Linked DNA regions of Homo sapiens: region 1 is reported to be linked to region 2. Evidence: microRNA targets listed by miRTarBase, many of them from high-throughput screens and not tested one by one. Region 2 holds a microRNA gene; the other region holds the end of a gene's coding sequence.
What was found. The annotated mature microRNA hsa-miR-378g reads ACUGGGCUUGGAGUCAGAAG and lies in region 2 at 1,459-1,478, shown strand. An mRNA with a match to its seed (bases 2 to 7 or 8) in the 3' UTR can be bound and repressed. Matches are read on the target gene's strand: a 7mer-m8 pairs with bases 2 to 8, a 7mer-A1 pairs with bases 2 to 7 and ends in A, and an 8mer does both.

Region 1 (4,396 bases), not on the chromosome of region 2:
AGATGGATGGATAGATGGGGGTGAATGGATGGATGGAAGGATGAATGAAGGATGGATAAATGTCTGGATGGGGGATGGATGGATAGCTGGGGTATGGATGGACGGAGGGAGGGATGGATGGATGGAGGGATGGATAGATGGATGGGGGATGGATGGGTAGATGGGGGATGGATGGATAGATGGGTGGATGGGGGGATGGACAGATGGAGGGATGGATGGATGGACAGTTGGGGGATGGATGGATGATAGATGGGGAATGGATGGACGGATAGATGGAGGATGGATGGATGGGGGATGGATAGATGGAGGGATGGATGGATGGATGGGGGATGGATGGGTGGATGGGGGATGGATGGATGGAGGGAGAGATGGATGGATGGATGATGGACGGAGGGAGGGAGGGATGGACGGATGGCGGATGGATGGTTAGATGGATAGATGGAGGACGAATGGATGGAGGGAGGGATGGGTGGAGGGAGGGATGGATAGATGGATGGGGGATGGATGGATAGGTGGGGGACGGATGGATGGATGGAGGATGGATGGATGGATGGATGGATGGGGGATGGATGGATAGATGGATGGATGGGGGATGGATAGATGGAGGGATGGATAGATGGGGATGGAGGGATGGGGGATGGATGGATGATAGATGGGGGATGGATGATGGATGGATGGATAGATGGGGGATGGATGGATGAGGGGATGGATGGATAGATGGGGGATGGATGGATGGAGGGATGGGGGATGGATGGATGATAGATGGGGAATGGATGGAGGGATAGATGGGGATGGATGGATGGGGGATCAATAGATGGAGGGATGGATGGATAGAGAGAGGGAGGGAGGGAAGGATGGAAGGATGGGGGATGGATGGATGAATGCATGGATGATGGATAGATGGAGGGAGGGATGGATGGATGATGGATGGAGGGAGGGATGGATGGATGGGGGATGGATGGATAGATGGGGGATGGATGGGTGGAGGGAGGGATGGATGGATGGGAGATGGATGGATGGATGGATGGGAGATGGATGGATAGATGGATGGGGGATGGATAGATGGAAGGATGGATGGATGGACAGATGGGGGATGGATGGATGACAGAGGGGGGATGGATGAATGGATAGATGGGGCATGGATGGATGGGGGATGGATGGATGGATGGATGGATGGATAGATGGGGATGGATAGATGGAGGGATGGGGGATGGATAGATGGAAGGATGGGGGATGGATGGATGGATGGATGTTGGAAGGAGGGGTGGATGGTATATAGAGGGATGGACGGACAGATGGATAAAAATGACAGAACTTTTGCAGCTTGGGGGCTTTCAGACTAGGGTCGTTGTACCTGCCAGTGTTTCTCCTGGGCAATGTCTGGACCCTGTGTTTCACAGGGGCTGGGCTGAACATGCCATTTCCAGGAAGAGTCCAGCGCTAAGGCCTCTGGAGGTGTTCTGTTTTGGGAGACCAGGCAGCCAAGTATTTGTACAAAAGAGGACCCAGAACTGCCCACACCACCACCTCTGGGATCCCCCCACCCCAGGGGAGGTTAAAGCAAGCAGAGGGACACCGACTGCTGCCACACAGGAGGTCTTTGGCATCCAAGCTCTGTCCAGGCCTCAGCATTCTGCAAGAGGACACCACGCTGCCACCATGTGTCCCAGACAACAGCCAGAGATGTGGAAGGAAGAGGTGCCGCGTGGACTTCTCTTTTTACAAAGACTTTATTGTCTGACATGCTTGACAAAAAAAAAAAAAAAAATTACAGCCACAATCAAGTTATGCCAAAATGATTGAGAAGCACGCCGTCATCTTCATACCTCGAGGACTTTTAATGAATTTTCTCTTAAAGTAACAGCTGCCTTCATAACTTTTCTTTTCCACATAAAAATACACCATATTCTGAAGATACCTTAGGAAAAAAATTTTTTTAAGTTTATCGTTCTTGGTCCACATAGAAATTGAGTGGAGCTGGCACTGAAAGGGCCTGCTTTTCTCCACCCGCACACATGTCCTGCGCCTGGGGCATCAGAGAGACCTCATAAACATCCCTGGCTACAGGAACCCCTTCAGCCAAACGGGATTCCTGGAGCCCTGCACCCCACGGCGCTCAGCTTCAGCCAACCCGATACAGTGCTGCTGCCAGGCTTCCAGGGACAGCAGCCCCACCCCTCGAGGAGCCCAGCTCAGTGTGGGCAGAAAAGGACTCCCAGGATGCTAGGATGCTGCACCCAGGGTTCAGGACTCCTCAGAGCTCACACCAGTTTTGAACAGGACCCTTAAAAATAAAAATACAATAAAAAGAGCCTTGGACCATGCATTGCTTTGTAGGGACATAACTTCGGGTCATGGCAAAGTGAGGGCAGTGAGGCCAGAGAACAAGGGTCAGATCCTGCCTCGGCTCCTTTTGTGCTGTGAGCCCCCAGGCAAGTTACCACACCCCTCTGGCCTCAATCGTCTCATCTCTAAAATGGGACTAAAGTACCTACCTTGAAGGACCATCTGAGGATGAAATGAGTCTATATCTGCAAAAGGGCTCACGGTAGGCTGGTTCCCAGGGCTGGGACCTGGGTGAGGGAGTGACACCCTTCTCTCAGATGTACAACGGAAAGGGGTGCAAAAAAAGTCACCAATCAGGACAAATAATACTACTTTAATGCAACGTTAAAAATCAAAATAAATGCAGAAAAAGTCCATGATGAACAAAATATTAAATAACGACAGAATCTGACCCTGAACTTGCCCATTTCTGCCTGACTGCCTGCCCCTCATCTAGGCCCTACCGGTTCCCACCACCGCCCTGGCCCCACCCCCTCCAGTCCTAATTCAAAGAAGAAAAAGAAGCTGTCCAAGGTGGGGCTGCTGGAGCCTGGGGCCCGCTCGGTCCCTGTGCCACCCTCCAATTCACAGGGCCGGCTGGTCCTGGGCTTCCTCGGCTGCAGGCATGCCAGACAGAATCCTAACGGTGCAAGGGAAGCCGCACCAAGGAACAGAACCTCACTACGGGGCAGAAAAGAGAAACACAGGACCCACTTGGTTCAATTAAGAGGGGTGCGTGCGTGCATGTGTGTCGGTGCGTGCCTGGACATGGGTTCACACCCATGGCAGGCCTGCTGCAGCCTAAGCCTGCAGACCCTCCATCCAGGCTACCGCATTCTACAGAGCAGTGTGTTCCCCGTGGGACCAAGGGTCATCCCCCCATGACTGGGAACGCTCTCACTGGTCCTGGGCACGAATGCCAGTGGCTCATTCTGTAGAACCAGCCCCCATCATCCAGGCTCCGAGTGAATGCCTAGGACACTCAGGTCATTGTTCAAGTAAACAAAAATGCCTATGGGAAGAAAAAGGGGGGAACAATGCCAGGCAAACAGCTGTGGGCCTGGCCAGGTGCGGTCTGAATTCCTGAGATGTCCCTAAATGCTCCCTCGGAGGGCCTCCGCCTTGGGCCTGTCTCCTCCCTCACTTGGGAGGAGAGAAAGGGACTGTCTGTGTGCAGCTCACGAATCCTCCCACCCACCCCAACCCAGGGGCATGCCGCCACACAGACCCGTGGTTAGAGGGAGATTTTGTGTAACTTCCAAAACCCATTCAAGAGCAGCAGCTTCCCAAACCAGGAGGGCGTCCAAGGGAGAAGAATGAAGATTTAGTCATTTCCCAAACATGACAGGGCCATGAGCTTAGTAGGTCCTTTAACGAGGTACACGCAGGATGTACACGCAGAAAAAGTAAATGAGCACAGAACCCCTGATGGGGATGCGCAGGGTCCCAACTCCAGGTGACAGAAGGCTAAAGAGTCGTTCCAAGGCCCTGACCTGCCTGCTAGGCCAGTCCCCGCAGCCAGATGGGTCGTCCAGGCAACTCAGCATGGAAGGAACAGTGGCCGGGCCAGGCCTGTGGAGCTGACACGGGCGGGCAGGGCAGGGGCAGTGGGGAGCAGTCAGGAGTTCCGGGGTGTGGGGAGGTCGATGACTATGGGCGGGTTCACGGGCTGGTAGTTCACAGTGCATACGGACGCATTCACATAGGTGGTCGTCCCATCTGCCATGACACCATACCCTGGAAAGTAAGCACATGCCCATCAGGCCAGCAGCCAGAGTAGTGAGGGTGGCCAGGGGGGTGTGGCAGTCATAGGGCACTCAGCCCCTGTGGGCTGAATGTGTTTGGGGCAAGCTGGTAAACTCTCGAGGTCAGTCCCTTCATCTGTAAAATGGAGATGATAATGATACATGCCACTTCCAAGCCTGCTGTGAGGATTATATGAGATAATTATCTATGTACTGTGCTCGGCCCAGTGCCTGGCACATAAGAAGCACGCAGTGAGTCATCATCATCGACATCATCTTCACCACCATCCTCGTCACCATCACCACCACCACTGTACCACCATCAT
Region 2 (4,396 bases):
CCATGATGCCCAATCCCCAGGGCTCTGGCATTTCCTGTCTGTAGCTGTAAGGCCAGCTGGGCTCGCCTCACCATCTGCGGCCAACCCATCATCCAGAGTCACATTAGAGGACTGGGTGGCCCGATGTCTACCCAGACAGGCAGTCAACATACCCTGGGGCTTACTGTAGAATCTTGAGCCCTTGAGATAAACCTGCCGCCCTGCCCCACATGTGCTGGACAGCATTCCTCCTCCTCAAACCCTAACCCCAGCGGGCTGCTTCTTTCCGTGACCCTGGGGTCACTGTGGCTTAAGTCTTGCAAGGCTGGAACCAGACAGCAGGGCAGGCTGTTTCATAAGTGTTCCTTGGTCTGTCCAAGTTTGTACTTCCTTTAAAAGATCTTTCAGTTGTTATTTTTTGTTTTCCCCCTTCTTTTCATTAACTTGAAAACAGCAAATCATATTTTGCCAAGGGAGAAAAACCCTCCCTCACCCAAGAGATTCCTTCTTAATTCAGCCCTTAGTAAACATTGTTTCTGATTGGATTTCTAGCCCGGCCTGGCACTGGTTCTACCAATGAGATCACTAACAGAATTTGAGAAAAACATTTGGGACCTGTGGCCTTGATTTGAAAAATCACCCTGTCTCTGTTCTGTTGTATTGCAGATGAGGAGACAAGAGATGCTTACGGTGTGTGTGTACAGAAGGGCACACCTATTGTTTACAGGTGTTGAAATAGAATGTCAACTGTCATGACAAGGAGGGCCTTAACCAGCAGGCCACTGCATCACCATGTTGAATGAACTCAACTCCAAACATGTTAATGTAATATGAAACATACCGATGGTGATCGGGCCCCAACTTTCTCTCTTACTTCCTCTCCTGCCTATATGCCTATCCTTTCCTCAATAATTGGCCAAATTGCTTCAAATTATTGCCTTTAGCAATGCTACTTACATGTCTCCAAGAATTCTGGTTAAAAGGAGTGGGTACCATGGGATGGATTTCTCATTAACTGATTAGTACCCATCTTAGCAGGACTTGCTTTATCTCATAGTCTAGCAGAGAACTATAGAGTGGAGGTGGGATGGGACTAAAACAAGAAGATTTTGATGGAGAGGGGAGGTGAAGCAAAGAACCTGATGTGAGCAGAGTCTAGGGAAGTAAGCAGGAAGGTGAGTGACCCAGGAAGAGCAGATGTAAGGATTGAATGACAGGGTGAACATGGTGGCAAGTGTGAGCATTTTCTGCCTTGTCTCACCCAAGGGTATCTCCCCAGTAGGTATTTAGACTATTCCTCCACTCACCCTTGTAGCCTACCAAGAGCAACATGATGAAGGGCTTCTTGGCCACTGCTCAAGGGCTACTTCCTATTAGATAAAACAAGGAAACAACAGAGGTAAAACCTGCTGGCTTCCAGGTACAGCCCAGGCTCATATCCAGGAGTCCTTGGCTAGACTTTTGTGTGGCAGATAGGGCACTGGGCTTGGAGTCAGAAGACCTGGCTCCAGCCCAGCTCTGCCATGGACCAGCTATGAGATCTTCAGGCAGCCTCAGTCCCTTCATCTGTCTAATGACATCAGGCTTCTGCATCCTCCCTTTGGGAGACCTCACATACTTCTGTGACACCATCTACAGCTACTATGCCAGAGTCCCCTAAATCCATATCACCAAGCCAGACCTCTCCCTTGAGTTGCCGAGCCCTGAACCCAAACTTCCCCAAACATCTCTGTTTGGGATTTATATGTCCCTAGAACTCAGCATGCCCAATCAATCGTTCACTTTCTTCCCAAACCTGTTCCTCTTCCTCATCCTACTTAGGTGAATGGCACCATCATCTACTCATGGGCCCAAACAGAAATCTGGATGTTTGCCCCAGCTTCCCCTACACCATTCACAGTCATCCAGTCACAAGTCCTGTATGTCCTCTTAAATATATCCTGAACCATCCCTACTCCCCATCCCCATTCCCACTGCTCTGAATGAAAATCTCTTCTCTCTCCTGGACCACTCAGGATCTTCCTGGCTTATTCCCTCAGTCCAGCATCTGCACTGGCTGATTACTCTTTTTTTTTTTTTTTGAGATGGAGTCTCGCTCTATCCCCCAGGCTGGAGTGCAGTGATGTAATCTTGGCTCACTGCAACCTCCTCCTTCCAGGTTCAAGTGATTATCCTGCCTCAGCCTCCTGAGTAGCTGGGATTACAGGTGTGTGCTACCACGCCTGGCTAATTTTTGTATTTCTAGTAGAGACGAGATTTCACCATATTGGCCAGGCTGGTCTTGAACTCCTGAACTCAAGTGATCAGCCCGCCTTGGCCTCCCAAAGTCCTGGGATTACAGGTGTGAGCCACTGCACCTACCCATTCTGATTACTCTTTCTAAACTGCACAGCTCATTCATGTACCTGCCTTACTTAAAACCCTTAGCAATTACCTATTTATTTCCCTAGGGTAAAAATCCAAATTTCCTTACCATGTCCTGAAATATACTCACCTGTGATCTGGCCCCGAGTTCCTCTCTGGATTTATCTCCTGTCCACCTCCCCTCCCACACTTCACACTCTACTTCAAGCCATACTCAGCTGCTCAAAGCACCACACTTGGGCCACGCTTTCTCTTTTATAACTTGAATGCCCTCCTGCTTGCCTGGCATTCCTTTGGTCCCCTTCTTTGCCTGCTCAGCTCTGACTCCCATCAGGAATGAGACCATATTCCTCAGGAAACCTCCCTGGTTCTCCTGAGCCAGAATGGACTCCCTCTGTGCTCTCTTAAGTTGTGGTGCCCTCCTGCCATGGCAGCTAGGCCGGGGCATTGCCTGTTTCCCTTGGTGTTCTGTGAGCTCCTCAAGTGTGGGCAGCACATCTTAGCTTGTTCTGTCTCCCCAGGGTCTGGCATGGTACCTAGCCCTTGATTAGTGCTTGCTGAATAAATGAATGATTGAGTCTCTGTCATCTCACAGAGTACTTGCAAGAATTAAATGACATGTGAAAATACTTTGTAAACTGTAAATGTGTTAGGGACATTTCTGAGAGTCAAGGGGTTTAGAGAGGAAATGAGCATGCTAGGCCTCTGGACAGTGAACCGAAAGGATGTTGAGCTGTGGTGTTCTAGGAGAGTACCAGGACTGCTCTGGACATGACATACTACCTGGGACTACTTGTGAAAGGAAATGAGCATCCTGAGAAATCACTTTGGGTCCTGTGTACTCAGGGAGGATTGTTTTTATATGGTTCTGGTTTGTTCAGGAAGCACAGTCTGTCCTCCAGTCAGGCACTCAGTGAGCAAATGCATTTGTAGCTTGAGGCCAGAGCTTCCTTATGTTTATATGACTCTTTATTAGGTGAAACATGCAGCCTCTTGGAACAATAAACTGTCTTTGTTACAGATGTACACTAGATTTTGATGGCATTTTTCCAGGGACCCTGGGAGCATCTGTGTTCTCGTGTTCTTCTTGCCTGTGAGGCCTCTTCTCTCTGAGGACAGATGGTAGGACAGAGAGAAGACAGCAAATGGAAAACAAAGGCTGCTATTTTTTTGTGGGGTGTGTACAATATCTATTCTACATCTCTGCCCATCCCCATTTTCTCCTCCTCCAGAGAGCATACAATTAAGGCTATAAACTGAAGTGGAGCCCCCATTATTTACCCCTAAAAATGAATACAGATCTCAGCCTCTCATTACCCCTTGGTTAGAAAGAGAGAGCATTTTGGTCTGTTTGGGCGACTATAACAAACATACCTTAAACTGGGTGGCTTTTAAACAACAGAAATTTGTTGCTCACAGTTCTGAAGACTGGTAAGTTCAAGATCAAAGCACCAGCAGATTTGGTGTCTGGTGAGGGCCCACTTCCTGGATCATAGATGATGCCTTCTTGCTGTGTCCTCACATAGTAGAAGGGCAAGGCAGCTCTCTGGACCCCTTTCTTTCCTTTTCTTTTCTTTTCTTTTTTCTTTTCTTTTCTTCTCTTTCCATTAATCCGGTCCATGAGGGCTCCATCCTTATAACCTAATCACTTCTCAAAGGTCCCATCTCCTAATACTATCGAGTTGGTAATTAGGATTCAACATATTAATCTGTGGAGGAAGGGGACACAAAAATTCAGACCATAGCTGGTAGTGATGAAGATAGAATGAGCCAGGTCCCAATGTGGGGCCAGGTGTGAGGGGGGCAGTAGCTGGTCATGGACATGTGGATGTTTGCTGAGTGATGGGTGAGCAAGTCCCTGCCATCTCATAGGGACACTGTAAAAACTGCCCTCTTGATGACCTTAGCAGTGCAATCATATTAGCAATGACATCCACCTTGAGGAGGGAAAAGATGGGTGTGAACAAGAAGGATAGTTTCTTTCTCCTTACAGCATCCATTATGTAGCATAAAAATTAGGGCCCCCATGTATCCAGGAAAGCAGTCAGAGCAT

Region 1: miRTarBase lists MPPED1 as a target of hsa-miR-378g. Seed matches in the 3' UTR shown: 7mer-m8 at 2,929-2,935.

What each region holds. Positions count from the first base shown.
Region 1 is chr22:43,505,164-43,509,559 of GRCh38, reverse strand. It overlaps MPPED1 (metallophosphoesterase domain containing 1), which reads right to left. Exons shown (of 7, transcript NM_001044370.2): 7 at 1,712-4,062. The coding sequence ends at 3,944. Among named protein-coding and RNA genes, the nearest start is that of EFCAB6-AS1, 8.9 kb to the left of the region's middle.
Region 2 is chr1:94,742,962-94,747,357 of GRCh38, reverse strand. MIR378G (microRNA 378g) reads left to right here and starts at 1,458; the gene lies at 1,458-1,498. All of the region lies in intron 1 of SLC44A3-AS1 (SLC44A3 antisense RNA 1), which reads left to right.